2 linked regions of the Homo sapiens genome follow. The protein of the gene in region 1 interacts with the protein of each later gene in a biochemical or structural test. Each region holds a gene or a part of one and is shown on either strand. Other genes may lie near its edges. The genes, in order: NPNT and ITGA8.

Evidence for each region.
Region 2: the proteins of NPNT (region 1) and ITGA8 form a complex in vitro, tested with the Homo sapiens proteins (one study listed by BioGRID).

The regions. Positions count from the first base shown.
Region 1 is NC_000004.12:105,888,799-105,900,372, forward strand, and holds the start of NPNT (nephronectin isoform B precursor), read left to right. Parts: upstream 1-6,672; 5' UTR 6,673-6,854; coding exon 6,855-6,925; intron 6,926-9,099; coding exon of another isoform or gene 9,100-9,102; coding exon 9,103-9,203; intron 9,204-11,574. UniProt on the Homo sapiens protein: Functional ligand of integrin alpha-8/beta-1 in kidney development. Regulates the expression of GDNF with integrin alpha-8/beta-1 which is essential for kidney development.
Region 2 is NC_000010.11:15,714,831-15,726,999, reverse strand, and holds the start of ITGA8 (integrin alpha-8 isoform 1 preproprotein), read left to right. Parts: upstream 1-7,077; 5' UTR 7,078-7,228; coding exon 7,229-7,437; intron 7,438-8,100; coding exon 8,101-8,234; intron 8,235-12,169. UniProt on the Homo sapiens protein: Integrin alpha-8/beta-1 functions in the genesis of kidney and probably of other organs by regulating the recruitment of mesenchymal cells into epithelial structures.

The sequences.
Region 1 (11,574 bases):
CTTACATGGATGGCACACACAAAAAGGGAGCTTGTGCAGATAAATTCCTGTTTTTAAAACCATCAGATCTCATGAGACTCATTCACTATCATGAGAACAGTGCAGGAAAGACCTGCCCCATATTCAATCACCTCCCACCAGGTTCCTCCCATGACATGTGGGAATTGTGGGAGTTACAATTCAAGATGAGATTTGGGTGGGGACACAGCCAAACCATATCAAATGCTTTCAGTTTGTAAAGAGAAAGCCAGCATAAAATTCTGAAGATCAGTCTTCTGAGTTGGTAATTTTTTCATATTTTTAAATTTTTCATATAGATGTGTATTCACCCATATTTAAATTACCAATTTTTATAACTATGTAGCTTATTGAATATTCTTATTTTTTTTCCAATAGGTTTTAAATGACTATATGGTCTAGTTATATAATCATATCATCTTCAGATAATGAGAACTTGGCCTCTTGCTTTCAAGTATTTATATATATTTTCCTTGTCTAATTGCATCAAATAATATTTCCAGGATATTTCAAATAAAAAATAGTGATATCAGCACCCTCTTCTTGTTCCTGACATGAATAAGAATTCTCCCAAGATTTCACCATTATACAGTATTCTGGCTTTTTGTTTCCAATAGAAATATATCTCAATAGATCCATCTCTCTCTATGAATAGAGTTTTTGTTTTGTTTTGTTTTAATCTGGATTATATAGTGCTGATCATAGGGTCTGTAGCACCCTTAGGAGGTCTTCTTAGGTTTAAGTAAACTTTCAGGCTCATGAGACTATCATGGCTACATTTGGCATCTATTTATACAGAAGGATACAGGACAGCCACCACAGTTTGCCAGTGTAGCATCAATTGTGTCTCTTTGGTGGAACACTTTACACAGCAGTACAGCTCAGGTGTAAGATGTGACCCACTTTACACAGGTGGGAAACTGTCTTGGCTTAATAGACTCATGCCCCTCTGGAGCATCTCTCGTGACAACCCCTTAGGCATAGTGCCCAGAGTCCCTTCAAGGGATATGCCCCATAAGAGTCACTGTACACAGGAGACCCAGTGGTTTGCTAAGAGGTGTATTTGGCTCTTCCTGTTTAAATGTGGTTTACCAATCAGGGGGCCATTTTAACCAGCAATATAGCAACAGACGTAGCCATGCATAGATAGCTAAATATAATTTTTATCAATACATTCTAGATATTCTGTAATTTCAGTTGTTATTTATAATTTTTTATTTTGACTTGAACACTGAATCTAATCTTGTCTCACCTCTAAAGTACTTTGCTTTTGAAGTCATTTTCTCTTTTCAAGACAGTAGAATCAGACTCTCATCCTCACCATCCCACTAAAACTAGCCTTATCAAGATCATCAGTGATCTCCTTGTCAAGTCTGATGATCACTTCTTAGTCCTGATCTTATTTAACCTTTCTATCTTTGGCTTATAAGACAATATACTTGCTTGAGTTTCCTATTACACCCCTATCTCCTCCTTTTCATTTTCCTGGGTTTCTTCCCTACTTAAATTTTGGAACATCCTTAGTTCTTAGTCCTTAGTTCTCTTAATTAGACTTCTTCTCTCTCCCTCCACTCTCTTCATTCTACATCTACATTCACTGTCTCTCATCCAGTCCCAGGGACTTAAATACTGTTGTGACTAACAATTTACATCTTGAGCCCTAGGCTCTCCGAGTTGCAGAGTTGTGCAGCATACTGCCTATTTGACTTCTCCACTTGAATGTCTATAAGACATCTTACACTTCACTTGTCTGAAGTATAACTTCACATAATAGTCTGTGGTGGTGACTATTAGTTGCTCTCTAAATTCTGCTCTTCCTTCTTCCATAGTGATAGAAGGTTGAGTTAATGACTAGGCTATATTTTCCAGTCTCCCTTGCAATTGCATGTGACTATCTGATCTAGTTCTTTCCAGTGAAAGGGAACAGCATTAATAGGTGCTATTTCCTGGCTCTAGTCCTTACAAGAACAATTGTGCCTCCTCCATACTTCCTTTTCCTCCATCTCACTAGCTAGAATGGTAACTATTAGAGTGACTGTGAAGGTGAGAGAGTCACTGTCAGGCTGGGACCTGAAAGACCTCATGGAACAGAGCTGTCCACCAACCTGATACACTCTCTTCAGACTGTTACATGGTGAAGAAATAATTTCTATCTTTTGAAAGTCATTATATTTTGGGGCTCTTTGTTGTAGCATTTTAACCTTTCACCTTAACTGACATAGAAATTGGTACCAGAAAAGATGCTTTCTTAATTTAAAACCCTGCATTTTCTTAATGGTCAGGCAAATTTGCAATTAAAGATATAGGTAGGGGGGCAGAGCAAAGAGTTTTTTTGCTCTGTTTATGATGGGAAGTCATTGGAGGGATTATTCAGTTGGACTGTGGTTTTACAAGGCATAACTATAGCTGCTCTGTGTAGGCTAGAAAGCTGGTGATGCTTATGCTATTTCATAAAATTGTTATCTATAATAACTTGGAAGGCACATCACATATCCAAGTCAAAGGAATATAGTTGTAAAAATGAGAATGTTAGCGTACTTCACTGTTCTTTGTTGATTTAAGTAAGGTATCATAAGAAAGATGAACTCAGGCAAGAACTGGCTGCTTTGCAAGCAGAAATGGAAGGAAGTGAGAATGTCCAGAAATTAAGGGCCTCTCAGGGCTGAAGAAGACAGCTGTTTTTGTGACCCAAACATTAATAAAAATGCAGGGATCCAAGCCTTGTGGCAAGGATCAGAGTAAGGTATCGCCCTCCTAAGCAACACTATTATTTCAGCTAGCCTCAAGGTGGCCCTCCATTAAGATGAGAAAGTAAAGTATGGATACAAGGAAGCAAAGAAATAGAGCAGCCTTCAGAACTAGGACTAGAAAAGACTTTGCTGTTATTTCCACAAGCAACTGACTGGAAGCAATTAGATCAGAAGCCTATTACGGTTTTAAGGAAATCTAGTTGCCACAGAAACCATGAATCTGTTAGCTCCTTAAAGCAATACTCAAGCCTTCAAATTTTTATCAGCAGAAAAGGGGTTGTGAATGATATGCAGCCCCCTAGGAAGGCATTTTCTGTAACAGTCACTTCTGATATGGCTATGGAAAATTATGGACAAGGTAGTTCCTCTAAGAGAAGCAGAGTATCCCAAATGTCTAACCAAGGCACTTTCTGCACTGCCAGAACAGAGAGTCTCCATAATTCTTGCTCAGCTGTGAGTCAAAATTGCTGTGAACAAGAAGCTATGTGTATCTTTATCTTAATAGGAGCTTTTAAAAGCAGTCATCCTATGCCTGTGCCACTACTGTGTATGGGGTGTGGGAAGAGAGGGAGCAATATCTTGTTTAATGGTTTGTATGACACCAACTATGAGAAGTCATTTCAGAGCTTGATAGAGAAAACACACCGCTCTACTGTCTGCGTGGACATGGGCTGCATCCCACACCCTCACGTGGCTCTCTCCCTCACTTCATTCAGTCTCTGCTCAAATGTTACTTCCCCAAAGGTGACCAAAGCACTCCATCTACAATCACACCTCCATCATTTTCTACAACCGTAACCTCCCTTTATCCTCTCCTTACTCCTTTTTTCTCTACATAGTCCTTCTGTATTGCTCCCCCACTGGAATGTAAACCCTTTCAGGGCAGGACTTTGTCTTGTCCTTAGCTGAAATCCTAGCACCTAGCTAGAAATGGCCAATACATTATAGGTCCTTAATAAATATTTACTGAAAAGAAAAAAGACTATGAGCTTCTAAATTTGAAAGGTCTGAAGTTGTGTTTGTTTGATTCTGTTTTGCTATTTATCTGTATCACATTATGAATGGTCACAGAAAATTATTTGTGCACGAGAAAATTGAGATTACTACCTGCAAGGTGTCATTACCTGGTAAGAAGCCTATCAAAAGTTTGTCCTCCTGAAAAAGTAGTTATTGCTAAAAGCTAGCTGTTTTGATCTCATTCTTGCTCATTTGTTTTTAAGACTGAGATAATGAAATGTCACTCCCATGGCAACTCTGCCTCTTTTTCGGAATGATCATTGGTGGTCATAGTTGCAGCATAATAACCAGTTAGACCTTGGAAATCCTTTAGATTCTCCTTATTCCATGATTTAACAAAGACTGATATAATTAGCTACATTTTACTGAAGGGAGAAGCTAAAGTTCACAGGCAGAATTCAATTTAATCCAATCCATCTGTTTAATCTTTGCTGAACTTAAGCTTTGTGCCAGGCATTGTGCTGGGGATAAGGGATATAGTGACAAGACAGACACTGCCCTGGCCCTTCTATTGGTTAGACTAATGTCTCACGGGACCCAGAGTGGTAGGGAGGCAATGACAACACAATACATTAAGAGCTACCTTAGAGCATGCTAAGTGTAATAGAAGTATATAAAACACTAGTCTCAGCCAATCAAAAAGTCAGAAAAGGCTTCCTGGGGGACTGTCGGCTAAATTTAAACTCAAAGGGTAAGGGGAGATTGTCCAAATGAAGAAGGAAGAGGAATGAAGAGGAGGCTAAATTTAAATGAAGAAGGAGTGTTTTCTAGGCCAAAGCAAATATATGGAAAACAAAAGAAAGACGCATGTAGATGGGGCATTACACTTTTCCCTCCAGTTATTTATCCTGTTTTCATCCACCACTCTTCGTCTTTTCCTTAGATCTCCAGTTTTTTAGCCGTATATTACCCCCTTTCTCTCTAATCATCCATTGCACACAGTGAGGTTTATTTGTAAATCTAACCCAGGCACCAACTAACCAACCAACAAACAAAAACAGCTAAGGAGTAGCCACTGGAACCTGGAACCATGCCTACACTTACAAAAATTTGATTTTCTGCAGAAAAAATATTTTGACTCCTACATTTTTGGACTTCATTAGAAGGACCTGAAATGGATGACACCAAGCTGTTTGCCTAAAATAATGTCCCAAGCCTGAATTGGCATGGATCTTTCTTGAGATTAAAATAGAAACTTGTTTTGCTAACTGAAAACAACTTAGAAATCAAAGAGCCATTTAAGTTGAAACCATTATTTTTCCTTTCCTTGAAGAAAATTCCTGTTTTTACACACACTGAATGATCAGGATAGTGAATCACCCTACCACAGAACTTTCCATTAAAAATTTGAAGTTGTAGAAACCTCAAAAAGAAAATGAAGATGGGGGGAAAACGTTTGTAATGTAGCAAATGAATTGAATAAACATTTATGAGCACCTACTATGTGCCAGGCAGTGTTCTAGGTGATAAAGATACCTGCCTTTGTACAGCTTGCATTCTAGCGGAAAGAAAACATACAAACAAAAAATATGCAAGTTATATAGTAATATAAAAGATGAGTGGTATGGAGAAAAGACAAAGTAGGACAGGCCAAGGATCATCAGAAGGAGGGCAAGTTAGAGGTTTAAATAGGATGGTCATGACTGGCCTCTTCAAAGAGGTGTGACATTTGAGCAAAGACTGAAGGAAGTGAGGGCGTGTGCCATGTAGATATTTGCAGAGGGCAAGTTGCAGTTTTAAATAGGATGATCATGATTGGCCTCCTGGAAGAGGTGACATTTGAGCAAAGACTGAAGGAAGTGAGGGTGTGAGCCATGTAGATATTTGGGTCCAGATAGAGAAAACAGCCAGTTACTGGCCCCAAGGCAGGGGCATGCCTGGAACATGCAAGAAAGGCAAGGAGGCCATGGACTGGAGGAAGAGAAATGAGGACATTGAGAGGTACGGGAGATGACAGATGATCACTGCACAAGGCTGTCATTCGAGGTAAGGTTGGGAAGAGGGGTGACTTGATTGGGCTCATGTACATCTTAGGATAATCATGTTTTCATTTGAACACAGTCATTTAGTACAATACTTTTTACTCTGCAACAACTGAACAATGATTACTTAAAATGGTTTCTAAGTGATCCCCTCAAGATCAGGCACCACAACACTACTAGGCAGTAGCAGCCCTTCCTCTCTGGCAGGCACTCATCCCTAGAGGGGCAGTCCTGTCCTAATGTGCTCGGGAGTTGAGCTGATAGAGACAGAAACAGTCTGCTCATTTCTTCTTCAAAACCCGACTGGAGAGCCAAATATTTCTTTTGGTTAGTTACAAAATAAAAAATATGCCTTTGCCAACTCTGCGGGAAAAGCAAACTCCCAGAGTTTGCCTTCGCTAATTTGTCCAAGTCGTGCTGTGGTTTTAGTAAATGCAGACACTGCTCAGCTCCAGCCCCATAAACCTCTCTGCTCTAGGGCTTCTCCGCCCTCCGGTGAAAGCTACTGCTCGCCCCTGCAGTCACCACCTGTTCGGGCGGAACCTGCGGAGCGTGCACCTACGCCTCGGGCTCCTTTCCTCCTCCACTCCCCTTTCCTGCTGGGCACCCTGCTTTCCCTCTCCCAGAGAGGGTTTGCAACTTTTCTCCCAGGCTGGGGCTCGCCCTGCTTGGCTAACCCCCAAGAGCCACTGCCGTCCCGCAGCGCCCCTGCCCCCGAGTTGCCTGCCCCGCTGGGCCCCCGGGAGGAGCGGAGCGCGCTCACCCTTCGCCCGGGGCTGGGAGGGCGGCGAGTCGGGCGCACGCGCACCCCCTGCCCGCCCCTGGCGCCCCTCCCCGCGGGCGGTGCAGCTACCCCTGCAGCGCCTCCCCTAGCTAGAAGGGAGCGGGAGGGGGCTCCGGGCGCCGCGCAGCAGACCTGCTCCGGCCGCGCGCCTCGCCGCTGTCCTCCGGGAGCGGCAGCAGTAGCCCGGGCGGCGAGGGCTGGGGGTTCCTCGAGACTCTCAGAGGGGCGCCTCCCATCGGCGCCCACCACCCCAACCTGTTCCTCGCGCGCCACTGCGCTGCGCCCCAGGACCCGCTGCCCAACATGGATTTTCTCCTGGCGCTGGTGCTGGTATCCTCGCTCTACCTGCAGGCGGCCGCCGAGTTCGACGGGAGGTGAGCTGGGCCCCGGGGCGCCCTCTCCTCCTTCCCGCGCTAATTTCACACTCACTGTCTTGGGTCACTTTTCCCCGCGGGGTTTCGTGGTCAGAGAGGCGTCTCCTCCATCCAGAAGTTGGGCCACCGCACAGCGTGGCGCGAGGAGAGCGGTCCAGCGGCTCCGAGTGCCCGCCCGAGGCGGAGAGGGCGCGCCCTTGCGAGTCTGGGACCCCATCCGCGGCCCCCCGAGGGCGACTCGCCCCGGCTCGGGAATTAGGACTGAGGGAGAGGAGCCGCTGGAGCCTGGGATCTCGGCTCTGAGGGCGCGGTTTAGCCACCTACGCCGAGGTGACGCGCGAAACATCCCTTACCCGGGAAACTCCCGCGCCTGAACTAGACGGCTCTTCACTGGGGAAGCTTCCAGGCCCCCGGGGGGAGGCCCGGGCTCTGCTCAGGGCTCTCGGGGCCGCTCACACAGAGAGTGGGTGCGAGTCAGCGACTGGGCTACGGGGGAGATTTGTGGGCCTCTCCATTTGGTTTTCTTGAGGGAAGGAGACTCAAAATGAGGACCGGAGGGTGGGCGCTCCGTGAATGTGAGCATGAGTGTGTGGATGTGTGTGTGAGAGCGCACACACTGCGCCGCTCCTCAGACTCGGGCGAGCCTGACGGCGGCGTGCTGTGACAGGTTCCAACAACCTCGGGCCGCGTCTCCGCTGTCACTCAGCCGGTCCTCCCGCGCTCCGGGGCCGCTCCGGTGTGTGAGAGACACTGGGTCTGTCGGGAGGGTGTGCTCGGTCCCCCTCACCTCTGTGCAATTACAGACTAGGCTCGTCCCGGGTGCAGATGGCTGCTGCGAAAAGAGGTTTTACTCTGGCGCACACCGTCGCCCGGTCGCCTTCCTTCAGCGACCTCTGCCCCCACCCCTCCGTGTAGGTCCCTGCCTAGTCCTAAAGAAAGATGCCGCACCTGTTTTACCTTTAATCTTGGAACGAATCAATTCCACAATTGATTCGCTTTCTTGTACCCGGAGGCGAACGGAGGGGAACCAGTGGAGCGCCAAGAAAAAGCACAGCTGCTTGTTCACTACCTGGTCGGAGGAAATAGAAAGTTCGGGGTTATTTTGTACTTTGGGCCTGGGGGTAGAAAGGCAGGTAAAAGAAAAGGGGAATTGAAAAAGATAAGGAGACTTTAAGAAAACGTGATAGCAGCCAGAGTGTAGACCTTTTTATTTTATTTTTAAAAGCAATTCTGTGCTCACATTTGGGTATGTTATGCATTTCTTGCACACATATTTGCAACAAGAAACCCATCACAAGATATGCATATGATGTGAATGCATATAGCTTTTTGTAACTTTAAAAAGATGTCTAAAACAGCAAATTAAAATGTTGATACCCAGAGGAAAAAAGTCATTTAGGTGTGACTCTAAACAAGGAAACAATTTAGCAAATAATGTGTCAACGTGTAATCAGGTGGATAAATCTGTATCCTGAAATTACTTTCTTTAGGCATTATTTACATTAGAGAGGAAAATACTATGAATTGTTGATCTAAGCACGTTTCAAACCACAAGGATACTTGAGATATCAGCTACACTTTAAACTCTCCTTGGTTTTATTTAGACTTTTTTCTAGTACTTTTTTGTTTTTTTTGTTTCTGCCACAGTTATGTCTCAAAAAGAGCTCTGTTACACTTGATTTTTGAGAAACCTTTCTGCTCCTTCCCCCATCCACCTTTTATATGAGGCAGAAATTTTTTCTGCTTTGACATGTCTTACTTAATACTTTTCAGTTTATGGTGAATCAGTCAAACCTGGCTTTCACCCCAGTAACAGGTGTGGGTCTTTGAGGAATCTGTTTTATTTCAAGCTTCAGAAACTATCCTGTGAGTGGCAGCCTTGAGAATTGTTGGTGTTAGCTGGTGCTATTTCTACTTAAGAAAGCATCTTTCCCTCCCGTTTTTTCTCCTACCCTTGTGTGTTGGGGGATGGGGTATTTAACTGTCTGAAATTTGACATTAGATCATAGCAGAACTATTTCTGTGAAGGTGTTTTAACCTTAAATTTCTGCAGGCATAAAAGAGTTTGTAGAAAATTGTTGGGTGTGGTTGACATTTTTTCTGAAGTAATAATACAGAGGAAATTACCTTTCTTCTCAAAAGTGTCCTTATTTATTTTGAATCTTTTTTTTTGGTAGGTGGCCCAGGCAAATAGTGTCATCGATTGGCCTATGTCGTTATGGTGGGAGGATTGACTGCTGCTGGGGCTGGGCTCGCCAGTCTTGGGGACAGTGTCAGCGTGAGTATCAAGCCTGGGGACTTCAGTTCCCTGGGAGGTGTGGCTTTCCACCTTGTTCATGGCTTCACCCCACATATCAGAGGGTTCATTACTGAGCAAGGCTTGGCCTTGCAGGTCTGACTTGGGGATTTTCAGGTACAGTCCAGACTCCTTATTCTGCTTCTTTTCAGCTTTAGCCACCTGTATTACGGCCCAGCTTTGTCATTCACAGAGAGCCACCTTAAATGTTTCTTTTAGCATTTTTCCCCCCAAATCTGCATCTCCTTCCTGTTTTCTTACCAGGTTTATTTCTCTCTCTCTCTCTCTCTCTGTCTCTCTCTCTCTCTGTCTCTCTCTCTCTCTCTCTCTCTCTCTCTCTCTCTCTCTCTCTCTCTCTCTCGCTGACTCGCTTGCTCCAGGCTGGGAGATGGGGATAAGATAATGAGTCTAGACCGTATTTACACTGGGGATAAGATAATGAGTCTAGACCGTATTTACACAAAATAAACTCTGAACCTTAGAGTACTTATATAATCCTCACCATAGCTGTTGTGTAAAGTGGCCCATTTGTAAATCCTTTTTTGGACTGGGGTTGTATTGACAGTGTTTTAAATGGACCACCCAGTATAATGAAACAAAGCCACTGAAACAACATTATTTGTAAGTTCTATAAGTAACCAACCTCATGTAATAAGTACCAAATCAGAAAGCTGATTTTCACCTTTTCTGTGACCACAAATGGATATTTTAATGGTAAAATTTAGAGCTACATCAAAAGAGTTTGAGAAATTTAGGAAATTTGTCCCCAGCATTTTATCGCGATCTTAAAATTGTATCTCACTCCTACTGCAAAAAAATAGTCTTCAAATGATCAAGTACCTTTCCAGAGCACCCTTAGAGTGCTTGGGGCGGGGGTAGGGGGCACTTCTGGTAAGATGATGGGAACTAAGTTGGGTTCTACATTGGGATATATATTTTATTGCTAATGAGGAGGAGGCTTAGAGGAAGAGAGAAGGGCAGTTACGAAGGCTAGAGCTGGCAATGGAGAAGCCTGCCTTAGAGATGGGTTGCTAGTGTGAGGAGTCAGGCAAATTTAAGTTCAGGAAAGTTAGGAGTTCCCTCTGCTATTTTAATTTTTGAGGATGCTTGCAATGTCTTCCTTAATTTTGTGAAAGAGGGACAGTGACAGTCACAGATTGACTCTAATTGCACATAAAGACCACAATCTCTGGTTGGGAATAGAAAGGTAAAGGAAATGAATGTTTGCCTACCTGGTATGGAATTTGAGAACCAACAGATTCTAATAACCAAAATGTGAAGAAAGGACCCTTCTGTTGGCCCAACACACCTACACATAACCCTCCTGAGTGAAAAATGAGTAGTTCTATACCTGCAGTCTCCAGCTGTGCAAATACTTCTGATACTACAGAAGACTAAATTCCACCAGGCACCATTCTTCTTTTTTGATCATCTTCCCTTAAAACAATATTGAATAGACTAACCAGTGAGTGTACAGCAGCTTTGCCTACTTCTTTTGTTTACTGGAAACTGGAGTTACCACCATCTCCCTTTAACAGAATGTAATTGACCCCCCGTGCAAAGGGTCTAGCCAAGCAGCTCGCACATAGCAGTTAGGCAAACATTCGTTTGCTTCACCTTTTATGTTTATACTTCCAAAATCAAAGTAGTTCCAAGGTTTTCTATGTTACAGTGAAATAAAATCCCTTTCAATTAAAAAGGCACAAATGGTTCTTTACTATTAACATTGAAGTTGGTGAGGTTGTAAAAATTAGCTCAAAGGTGAATGTTTCCTTCTGTGTATTTTATTTTTCCAGCATCTTAGATGGCGCAAATGTCTCTTGTCAGTTCAGAGTTCTGCCTGTCTTTGTTTTGATATAAGCAGGTAGAGGAATGTGGGGCTGAGAAGTAAGCTTGAAGGGGCAGAACAAACCAAAAAGAGGCTGATCAGATTGAATGAAATATCTCTGAAAACTCTTGATTATTTTAAAGAAAGTCTTTATGAAATTAAAAGTTTTGTCACTACGTTTGTTCAAGAAAATGCCTTGCTATTGTATAACAATTCAATCTAATATGATTCCTTATAAAGATTCCAAAGAACTTCTAGCGAATTTAATGTGAGAAATGTTTTTGCCTTTTCGACCTTTAGATAATCATGTAGTTCTTTCCCATAAGGAAGGGCTATTCTCCCTTCCTCATCAGAGGTGCTCTGGTTCTCTTCTTTTCTGAATGATTCACTTTGGAATTTTCCTTCAAAACAGCATAGCAAAACAAAAAGAAACTATTCCCATTACTGCATAGATCTTCCCAACTTATCCCATAGAAGGTGTGTTTGTAGGTAGGGAAAGGTGGTGGTACCCTCATTATATTATTT
Region 2 (12,169 bases), on another chromosome or scaffold:
GGAATTATGGGAGCTACAATTCAAGATGAGATTTGGGTGGGGACACAGTGAAACCATATCAACTTGGTCCGATGTGCTCAGATGAATTCTGCTAAGATTGAACTTCTCTAAATCAGTGGCCCCAGACAAGCCATAGAATTCCTTGTCTTCCAGATCTGGGTAAGGAGTGTTACGATCACAGGCATATATTTTTTAAGTCATGCCATGAACAGTTTGTTTTATTCTCTGGCTTAACTCATGGCTTTAGTCTTCTCTGATGAAAAATATCTCATAAAGCCTTCCCCGTCTTACCTCCAGCCCCATCATTCTCTCACACCACACCCCGTTAGTTTCAATCCTGGCATTTATCCATCTGGCATTTATCCATTTAATTACATTCTGCTCAGTTTGCTTGATTGTTCACCACCTAGCACACCTCACTAGACTGTATGCTCATGAAGGGAGGAACTATATCTTTTTAGCTTAATACTGCATCACCAGAGCTTGCATGGTGCCTGAGACAAAATTGGTGCCCATATTTGTTAAAAGGATAAAAACAATGAATAAGTAAATCAAAATCAGGAAGCCAAGTGAGGTTGAGCAGGACATAGTCTTTGCATGGATCACAGTGACAACTAATTTGGACTTTGTCATTAGTTGGGAAAATATTATTTTTATTTTCATGGGACACTTTCTCCCTCCGAGTCTCCCTGCCTGTCTTCCTTCCTTCCATCTTTCCTTCCTTCTCCCTTCCTTCTTTCCCTCCTTTCCTTCCTCCCTCCCTCCCTCTCTCCCTGCCAGTGTTCCTTTGTTCTTTCCTTCTTTCATTCCTTGCTTCCTTCCTTTCCTCCCTCCCTCCCTCCCTTCCTTTCTGTTTCTTTTTTTCTTTTTCACCTAATGATTTGCAAAGCTATAACAAGGAAATAAAAATCTTAATAAATGTGGGAGAGATTAAATCAATGTTTGTAAACTTTTTAATAAAAAATATTTTTAAAATCCATTTGTAAGAATTATCAAAATTGTAAGGCCAAAGCATTTTTCACAAGGAAGGTTTGTATTATTCCTGGAAAATCCCACACACTTGAATAAGATCACAGACACTAGAGGGCAGTCCTAGACACCCTGTGGTTCTCCTAAAGGCAAACTAAGCACAGCAACTTAGCCTGGGGTTTTAAACACACTGTTATCAATGCATCAGTTGCTCCGGCCTTCACCCGCTTCTGCAACTGAAGGACTTCCCCACTTATTTGTAGGAGGCATTGGGTGTGTCATCTGAGTCCTGTAGCCTCCCCCAGGAGCTGAGTAAAGTGGTGTCTGGCTGCTTTAGAAGCCTATACCTCCCTGATTGTCCAGAACCACATCTATTGCTGCTGTTACCTGGGGTCCATGAAGGTGCCTGCAGCCCTGTGTTCACAGACGCCTACACTTTCAAGTCCTGGGGCGTGCACGGGTGGGAAGAATGCACCACTTCTCATCTTGCCCTTTTTGCCGAGGACCAGGGTGGTGCTGCTCTGAACCCTAGCACTTTATGGTGACTCAGTTTTTTTGTCATAAAATAAAAACCTTGAACATTCCTGCAGGCCCTCTCCCCACCCCCCACCCTTTGCACTGGACTCCAACATGAGTCCCTTGGGGAACTGGAATTCTCAATTGCCAGACTCCTAATTTACGGCTTAGATGCTATGAGTTCCCTTCTCCTCTCAAAAGTTTCCTGTAGTCCTTTTGGCCAATAGTTACTAAATGATCCAGCCCACCAACCCAACACACATGTGTAGGTCTTTCAGCATACTGGAGTGAACTGACCCTGTGGAAACATGTAAATCACTCAAGATCCTGATTACAAACTCAGCCCTCTCCACCCACAAGGGCTGTGAATCTCAGGAAGATTTATCCTCAAATGTCAATGCTTTGGAAGAACATAGCTTTCCACAGTTACCTTCCCTTTGGAGGAAGAATTCTTTTACTTTTATTTTTGTTTAAAGCAGAGCTGCTTTTCAAGGCTTGTTCTAAAAAGAGATCAAACTGGAGTCTGGTTTTGACTAGTGGGAATTTTCCTTCAGCTAAACCAACTGTTGGCTGTGCTTGAACTCCCGCCAATACAGGGGCCAGTGCTACAGCACTTTTAAGTTAAAAGTGGCTAATAAAATCATGAAGGAAAACCATAAAAGAGAATTACAAACAAAATCATCAAAAAGAAAAAAAAATGGTTTTACTATGGGTGAAATTCACCCTCCAGGGACCGAATAGAAAATTTGCAGACATAAGCTGATGTCAGCAGAGACACCTGACACATTTAAAAGTCTTTTCCCCTCAGTAAGTTTAACCATCCAGTTTCTACTAATCAGTTGTTTCTAATATTGCAGGAAAGCTGAGTTCAGTTGGGCAGAAAAAAAATCTGACATAACCTCAATTATCCATTTTCTAAGTAGAGACTGAAAAGCTACCTTCCATTCCTGGTGCATTGATTTTTAAAGCTGATGGAGCCTCCGAGCACACATTGCATTCACACTGGCTTATTCTGTAAATAGTTTAAAATATTTGAAATGTGGTTCTATTAATGAAATAATTATATTGACACTTTCACACCTCTTGATTTTAAGGCATGATCATATCACATAAAGAAATAGATTGAAACACAATCAGAAATAATAATTGGTCATTAAGTTAGACATGTTTTTGATTGAAAAGTATGCACTAACTGGTTAAATGGTCTGGCATTTCTATTTTTAAGTACTTCGTACATGGCTACAACTCAGACATCATTTTTTTCCCCTGTGGTACTCTTTACTTGTTTATTTTTGGAAAGTTTGGGCCAAATCTGTTCCATCTTTGACCTTTGGGTTCTTTTCTTTTCTTTTTAGGGAAAGAACTATGTATACCTTTCCCAGTACGAAGCATACACATATGCTCACATGGATGATAAACAACTCGCAGACTTGCTTTTCTGACAAATAAATCAGTGCTGGTAGATCTTTAAAATGTCAAACTTCTCATTCAGCATGAGACCTGTCACTGTCCATGTGTTTTTTTGACGAGTCCCCAGATCTTACCAATTGGCATGGTTCCCGTATGTCAGAATGATGAAATGTACAAGACACCTATTCAGACTTATCCCTTCTCTACAATTATTGCAATTGGGTATTTTTTTTTTCCTGGCTTCTTGGAAGGTTTACTACTCTCCCAGGCTTTTGGCCTCCCAGGGAGGTCAAAGAGCTTGGAGTTAGTTTGCGTTCCCTCCAAAACACCAAGGTGCAGCCAAACCTTTTTCCACGACCTCTCGGAAAAGTACACAGCAGCTTTATGCCATCTCTCAAGGACTAATCATAGGCATGCCCAGAGGGCAGCCCAGAATAGCTTACTACCTCTAGAAAGGTGGCTTCTCATTATTATCATGGCTTTAAAACCTGATTCCTTATAGATCTAGTAGCATGAGGAACTGGTTTTGGCATTTGATAGGGTTAAAATAGTACGACTTACTTGCCCTGTAAACATGCATATTATTTTACCTCCCCAAACTTTAATGTCCTCATCTGTAAAGCAGAAAGTGACCATATTAAGAATATAGACTTATGTAAGTCAACAGCAAGTATGTTTTAGAACACAGAAATAAGAATATACCTAATTATGTGTCAGTAAACAGATTTTTTTTCCCTTATCTACTCTATTTTTGTTGTTGTTGTTTTGAGACAGAGTCTCACTCTGTCACCCAGGCTCGAGTGCACTGGCATGATCTCGGCTCGCTGCAACCTCCGTCTTCCAGATTCAAGCAATTCTCCTGTCTCAGCCTCCTGAGTAGCTGGAATTATAGGCATGTGCCACCACACCCAGATAATTTTTGTATTTTTAGTAGAGAGGGGATTTCACTATGTTGGCCAGGCCGGTCCCAAACTCCTGGCCTCAAGATGATCCACCAGCCTCTGCCTCCCAGAGTGCTGGGATTACAGGCATGAGCCACCATGCCCAGCCTCTCACTCTATTTTTGAACAAAAAGACTAAAAAGTTTAAGAAATATGCCAAGGAAGTAAGCAAGTGGGTACAACATGGGATACCCTGGTGATGTGCTTCTCTATGCAAATCAAAGCATTGTGTAATATATAGCTAGTTCCACCTAGTAAGTCAGCACACAGGTCAGGTGCATGTCTAGGATCATTCTATCACCTTCTGCCTATTTAGATGGTTCTCATCCATCTCAGGCTAGCTTGCAATAGGACAGATTTCCAAATTTCAGCATGCCAGTGTCAGGAAATGATTGAGTTGAGGTTATTTTTCTAACCTCAGTGTCCAACACAGTTGTCAGCATTCCTATTTGTATGCTGCCCATGAATTCCTCATTGAAAATTACTGAAGGGAACACCACTTTGATGAACAATAGTAACTTGATCAGAGTAGCAGACTCTGCGTTCAAAGCAAATGAACTTTTAAAATGAGAAGCAAGTCTTCTACCATCTACTCCTAAGTCTTTACCTGGGAAAGGAATACTCAGGAAATTATCCAGACGTGACAATTTGCCAGGGAAATTTTTGATAGCTTATTTATTTGTATTATTTTTACAGGGGCATGACAAGTAAAGATATAACATTCAGATCAGTCTACTGAGTGGGTTCTGATGTAAGGGAGACAAGAAGTCCAGCTTTTCAGTAAGTTCAGAGATTTTTTTCTCTGGATAGACCCTCAAATCAATGGACAGACTGACCACTCCCGAAACTGCCATCTACATTGCTAATCGCAGGCTAGTAACTCAAATCAGTGAGCCCAGCACCTAACTCACCTTCTACTTCCCCAATCTGCTGTCCTAGCCCACTGCTACCGTTCGCTATTCTTCTTTTCTAGGTTAATACCTTGAGACACCTTGAATTTTTTTTGAGATGGAGTCTCGCTCTGTTGCCCAGACTGGAGTGCAGTGGTGCAGTCTCGGCTGACTGCAATCTCGGCTGACTGCAAGCTCCGCTTCCTGGGTTCAAGGGATTCTCCTCCCTCAGCCTCCTGAGTACCTGAGTAGCTGGGATTACAGGCACATGCAACCACACCCAGCTTTTTTTTTTTTTTTTTTTTTTTTTTTTTAGTAGAGACGGAGTTTCACCATGTTGGTCAGGCTGGTCTCAACTCCTGACCCTGTGATTCTCCCGCCTCGGGCTCCCAAAGTGCTGGGATTACAGGCGTGAGCCACTGTGCCCAGCCTGTCCCTTTTCTTTAGCATTTGTGGCCCTCCCCTCCCTTCTGTTAACCAGCTTGAGGTCCTCGCCTCCCAGTGCATCTAGGCAACACCTACTTTGCTTTCCCTTCCTTCCAACAACTACCCCCCACTCCCCACCCCTAAACTTTTGGAGCCCCAGAAGGTATGTCCCGTCTCTGCTCTAGAACTGGCTCCCTTTGCCTCAATAAATGTTATTGTTATTAAGATCCTCTTCCTGAAGATCCAGTCAACCCTATTTCCCACCACTTCCTAACCCACCCCTTTTATTCCAATCCCATGCACAACCATTTAATCTCTGTCTTTTCTAAGTATTAATACCTTCCCTCAACTTCTCCCCCCACAGTGCCCAAATGTAAGCCCCGTATTCAAAATCCTACGTAAATGTACATCTGCCACCAAATCCTCTTACATGCTTCAGAAAAAACTTAGCTCTTCTGTCTCTAAACTTCATATCTGTTTAACCTCGGCTCCTTCCGGTTTCATGCTGACCTGTTTTGTTTAATGTTAACGAATGACCATATGTTATGTAAAGGGATCTATACTCCTTTCTCTTCTCTGTCCTCCCCTACTCAAGCCTCACGTCCTCTCCGACACAGGAGACATGGGAAGAGATTGACAACACCCACGGATCAGAACCGAAATCTGAACTCCTGTAGACTGTGAACTACACCTTCTACCCCCGCAGAAAGTAAACTGTAAATTCCAACATTCTTAACTGCGCCAAACTTCATCACAATTACACAGGATGGAGATTTACTACTAAGTCATTTAATATGCCCAAGATGCCTTTAAGAAAGATTTAAATAAAATCTCAAGGGCTGGGCAAGGCGGCTTACCCTGAAATCCCAGCACTGTGGGAGGCTTAGGTGGGAGGATCGCTTGAGTCCAGGAGTTCAAGACCATGTTGAACAACATGGTGAGACCCCCATCTCCTTAAAAAAAAAAAAAAAAAAAAAAAGAAGAAGAAGAAGAAGGAGAAAGAAAGAGAAACAAAGAAAGAAAAGAAATTTTAAAAGTCAACTCGAGGTGGCAGGACGGCTTGAGGCCAGGAGATCGAGACCAGCCTAGGCCACATGAGCAGACTCAGTGTCAACAAAAAAAAATTAGAAAATTAACCAGGTGTGATGTGTCATCTGCAGTACCAGCTAATCAGGAGGCTGAGGCAGGAGGATCGCTCGAGCCCAGGAGTTTGAGATTTCATTGATCTATGATAGCACCATTGCACTCCAGCTTGGGCGAGAGAGAGACCCTATCTCTAAAAAGAAAAAAAAAATAAATAAAACAAAGCAAACCAACCAAACAAACAAAAACAAAAAATTCACACATGCACACACACAGGCGCGCGCGCACACACACACACACACACAGACACCCAACAACAAAAACAAAAAAAAACCCTCGAGGCTTTCTTGTATATGAGTTAGCTCTGCCAGGAGGTGGGGTGGACTTAGGGGAGGAGAGGGTTGTTGCATTTCAACTTTAACTCTCATCACAGACGTGCAAAGCCGTGAACGCTGAGGTCAGGCTGCAGAGGTGATGAAGAGATAATTGCTTTGCCCCTCCTGGTGGTGGGGTTGGTTTTCACATTCTCCATCCAAGCTGCGCCTTTGACACAACTGGAGCAAGCTCTCGCTCCACCTGGGGCATTGCTTCTAAAGCAATAAATAGCTTGAGGTGACAGAGACGAAACTGATTGTCCTTGAGATGGGACTGCAATAGAAATCCGGGCAGCCCGAAGAGGCACCCAGCGCTCCAGCCACCAGCTGGGCCGCCCGGGAGTCCCTGGCTCTAGACCAGCCGCGAGGAGGCGCCGCGAGAGAGCTGGTCCCTGCCCGCGGCCGGAGGAGGGCTAGAGCCCCTGGGCCAGCCCCCCGAGCCGGCTGGGCGGGCGGGCGGGTGGGAGCAGACGCCGGGCACTGTCACCACGGGTGCGCCGAGCGCACCGACCCGGGACACGGGCAGCTGGGGACCGCCAGATTCCACCAGCCCCCCTTGCCCCGCAGGGGTCCTCGGCTCGCGCTCCTGGGTAGCAGCCACCCACCGGGGCGGAGGGAGATGTCGCCCGGGGCCAGCCGCGGTCCCCGGGGAAGCCAGGCGCCGCTGATCGCGCCCCTCTGCTGCGCCGCGGCCGCGCTGGGGATGTTGCTGTGGTCCCCCGCCTGTCAGGCGTTCAACCTGGACGTGGAAAAGCTCACAGTGTACAGCGGCCCCAAGGGCAGCTACTTCGGCTACGCCGTGGACTTCCACATACCCGACGCCCGCACGTAAGTCGCCCGACCCGGGGAGGTGCGCGCGGGGACGAAGGCGCTCCCGGGTCAGGTCCCAGCGGCTCTGCCGCGGAGTCCCCCCGCAGCCTGGGATCCCCGTCCTGCCGCCTGCCCGGGGTCCCGTCCCTCTCCCCGCCACCAGCCCCTTCTCTCCCCTGCCATGCTAGATGTGCCTTGTGAATTTTGAGCTAGAGACATGCCACTTGCATAGAACACGCAAGTCCTGGGTGTTCCAGGTACCAAGACGCACGCATCCTACAAAGGAGAGAACAGGACCCAGAAGACCCAAGCCAGTTAAAACCGCCACCACAGCGAGGTCTGTTTATGCAGAGTCTGTAACCATTGCGTCTGGGCGCAAGAGCTGTCGGCTACCAGCAGCTGGGCTCTGTCCTTGGCTTCCTCCTACCCCACCCCCTTCTCTCATCTCACTGTACCCACAGAGCTCCACCTAGAGAAGCAGGACCGTTTGCATTCTTGCAAACCAGGTTGCGGACCCCCGTTTCCAAGAGGAAATCAAGTTTGACAGTCGGTCCTCATCATAAATACGTTCATGCCCTCCACGCCTGCCCCAGTGTCCCCGGGCAGGAGGTTACAGAGACTGCATTGCATGCGCACGGTTTTGTGGCGCCCAAAGAGTGACTTTCTCCAACTCTTTTGCAGAGCGAGTGTCTTGGTGGGGGCGCCCAAAGCCAACACCAGCCAGCCCGATATCGTGGAAGGGGGAGCCGTCTATTACTGTCCTTGGCCCGCGGAGGGGTCTGCGCAGTGCAGGCAGATACCGTTTGACACCACCAGTAAGTGAGATTTGTCCTTCTAAGCTGTGGGCCTGGGTTTGGAAGAACCAGGGCCATCCCAGAGGCGACTTCCCGCTGTCTTGGTGTGCTGCTCGTTTAGCTTGTCTGATATGTCCGTATTGTGGGCTATGTGGGTCTCTAGAGAAATCAGTTTTTTCAACTCTCAGTTAACTGAAGGAAGACGTTTAGTGAACCCTAGAGAAAGGACACTATTTTGACCCTGAGTGTTCGGATGCATCCTGGCAACTCCTGTTTCTTTACCTTTCTGAGATGAGCATTTTCAGGGTGAGTGGATGTTTTGGAGAAATACAAAAACTATGTCCTAACTTTGACTGTGGAGAGAATTTGGTTGCTTCTCAAGGACAGATCTGGAAAAAGAGAGATCCTTAGCGTTTCCAGTGCCCAAGCTCGGGAGGCAGGACTTAGCTGCTGCAGACCCAGACATCACTCCGCGTTGCTGTTTAATTCTTTACAGAAAGAAAGAATTTTCTTTCAAAGTATTAGACATTGAATGCAAACTAGTGCAGGCAGAGTGTGGATGGATTACATTCATTTCCAAAATCCCTAGACAGATGTTTCTTATTTAATTAAAGGGAAAATACATTTTAAACAATTCAGTCTGGTTACGTTTCCTCTGGTGTTTTCTCTTTAGAGCCTGAGAAAATAATTTAAATGCGATGCTTTCAAAAACATTAACACCGAATGCTTTAATTTTTACCACCAAAACTTTATGAATTCAAAAGGTATATATTATCAGAAAGCAAATATCTCTTTCCAGAAAAATGCGAATATGTCAGCTTGAACAATGGTCCTTGATAAATAATCGTTTAAAATACCTTGTGTACCACACAACTATTTTATGACATACTTGATTTCTTTGATTTTTAATTGTTTGATTAGTGCGTATATGGAATTTATGCGGAATATTTTCACAGAATTTCGATGAAATTGGCTGGATGATGTTTACTTGTTACTATAATTTGTATCTTTTATGTTAAAGGAGAAAACAATTTCAGTTTCATAAATATGAAAATATTTCAAAGCAAAACAGACTATACAAGCATTACCTTGAATTATGACCAAATTAGGAAAGTATTTTATAAAAGCATTGGAAAATTATATTTTTATCATGCCTGTCTATATATGGTCACAATAGCTTATCATTTTATTAAATATTCTGTTATTTTATACCAGTTTTTATAAGCTTTTACTTTTAAATTTGAGTATTAGCAACCAGGAAGATTAAACCTTTTGATGTTAATTTGTGACAGAAATCTTTTAATTAGTTATTTTATCAAGACTTGAGACACTTTCTAGCTACTGCTCTCTAGTTTAAGAATAAGCTTCGTAAACCAAAAGAATTAAACATTTAAACACAAAATTAATGCCATTTTAATAATTCATATCCGAATCATTTGTATTTTTAAAAGTATTTTAAAGCAGGCCAAATAAAGACATGAATCATTAACATTATTTGAATTTACATTAAGGAAAGTATATTTTGAGACATGGTTGATGTGTTTTCACCAAGAAGCAATTTATGGTCGTGGAAAAGAATTTAATAATCTTCTTGTATAGTCTCATAACATCAAATCAGGATCTGATTAGTATTTTTTTCTTTTGATAAAGGAAGAATCAATGTCTGCCCTGATAAGTTACAACTGACTTACTTTGTAAGTACTCATCCCAATAGATGTCATAGGCCAACAGATTAAAAACCAGAGAATCCAGATGTCAACTATGAATTCAAAAAATAACTGACCACTCCTAACTGAAAATTTTCAATATTAAATTACAATAGGTAGGCCAGGCGTGGTGGCTTATGCCTGTAATTCCAGCACTTTGGGAGGCCGAGGCAGGTGGATCACTTGAGGTCAGGAGTTCAAGACCAGCCTGACCAACATGGTGAAACCCCATCTCTACTAAAAATACAAAATCAGCCGGGCCTAAGGGTGTAATCCCAGCTACTTGGGAGGCTGAGACAGGAGAATTGCTTGAACCCAGGAGGGAGAGGTTGCAGTTAGCCAAGATTGCACCATTGCACTCCAGCCTGGGCAACAAGAGTGAAACTCCATCTCAAAAAAAAAAAAAAAAATACAATAGGTTATATTTTCCAAGTTCATTCTAAAGCAATTGCTTGAAGCCTTGAATTCACTCTCCCATACAGAACTAATGCTGAAAGATGTGCTTTGGTTTCCAGAATAGCCCACAGGAATGCATTTAACCCTTATTGTAGCTGAATTATATTTGCAGTAAAACAGTAGGGGACAAACTAGAACAAGTTGGCAATTAAACAGAAAAATAATGTCCAGAAAATGTCAGTGTTACTTGGAGAAGACAATGTCCTCTTTTGTGTAGGTTAGGAAAATGTCTAGATATCTCAAAGGGCTTTAGAGATTGATGCTGCTCATTCCACACTATGTCTTATTTTACTTCCAAATATATAGTGGTTTACTTGATAAATAGATGAATGCACTAATCCTACTATTATACTTATCAACTACAATCATAATAATTTCAGAATTCACAAATGGAACAAAGTGAGAGAAAGAAAGGGGAAGAAAAATCAATGTTCCTGAAATAATTGAACAGGAAATTTAAAAAGCAAGGCAGGAAAGGCTACACAAGTTTGTGAGAAATGAATGGTCCATGACAGAATGAACAAGGCTGTGACCTGTGAAAGACAGGGAGGTCCCACTGGGGAGGAGAAAGGAATTGTTGGGAAAAGAAAGTTCCCCATGTCGGCCATCAGGGGGTACTATGGGCCCAGAAACCTTGATTGCCAGTGGGAATGGCCTGAAAATGGGTGTGGGGAAGGAATCCACAGGGTCACAGCTCAGGTGTTTGCTACCAAGTGGTTGCTCACCCTCTATACCTCATCTGTGCCAATTGCTTTGTCCTTATACCCTCAGATAGTGGAACTGGCAGTGGCAGCTACTTGATGCAATGCTGTGCAAGTGAAGAAGGCACAGCAGATGCCAGTGTAGCTATTTCCATTCTGAACATCCACTTCGTGGACAAAGTAGAATGTTAAAACGAAAGATGAAAGGTGGAAACAGACATCACTGGCTCTGGGTCCTGAAGTCAGTGTTGCCAGAGGCATCCCATTTACAGATCGCTACTATGTACCAGACACGGTACACACATTGTTTCTACTACATAAAACAAATCAAAACAACTATGTAAAACTCATTCTGTAAATAAGGAAACTGACATCAAAGGTATACCCAAGACCGTACAGTGGTAGGTGGTAGAGGCAGGACTGGAATAGAGGTCTGCCCAGTTCGCAGCCTGCTTGTTCCCCTCACCTTCCTTCCAGAAATGGGGAGAGGATTGACCCTGATAGACTGCAAGTTCAGGATTATGACTAAGCCCCCAAGGAGCTTTGGAAGGCTATATTTGCCTTCCCTCCCTCTCCTCCATTCCCCTACTCCAGCAGTGGCTTTACAATTCCATTTTAAATTATTCTCCAGAGAGGGGTTGGAAAGGATAAACAGTTTTGGTGGAAGCATTGTAGAAGCAGGGTTTGTCTTGGTGGGAATGATGGGTCGCATATGCCCCTGGTTTGCTCAGACTCCCACAGAATGCCCCTTCATGGTCTCTGATAAGCTGCCTCCTGAGTTACTCTCTGCTCAGTGCCAGTAACGTACTGTTCTCCCCCGAAAAAAAGGAAGAAAAGTTCTCTGCTTAACTAAGTAGTGGCCCCAAATTGACATCCGCATAATGGAGTGTGATGTGTCAGGCATAAAAATGTATATTGCAAATATTCATCTGTCAAGACATCAGTGACTTTCCTGGTCTTTTACCCTACTTTTACTACGACATCTGAATTCAAGACATCCTAAGTAAATTTGACCTTTCAATGAAGTTGTTTCAACTTGTTCAGGTCCCTGGGGTGTCTACAATTGGGTATTCTGCTCTGGTAACCAACTAAA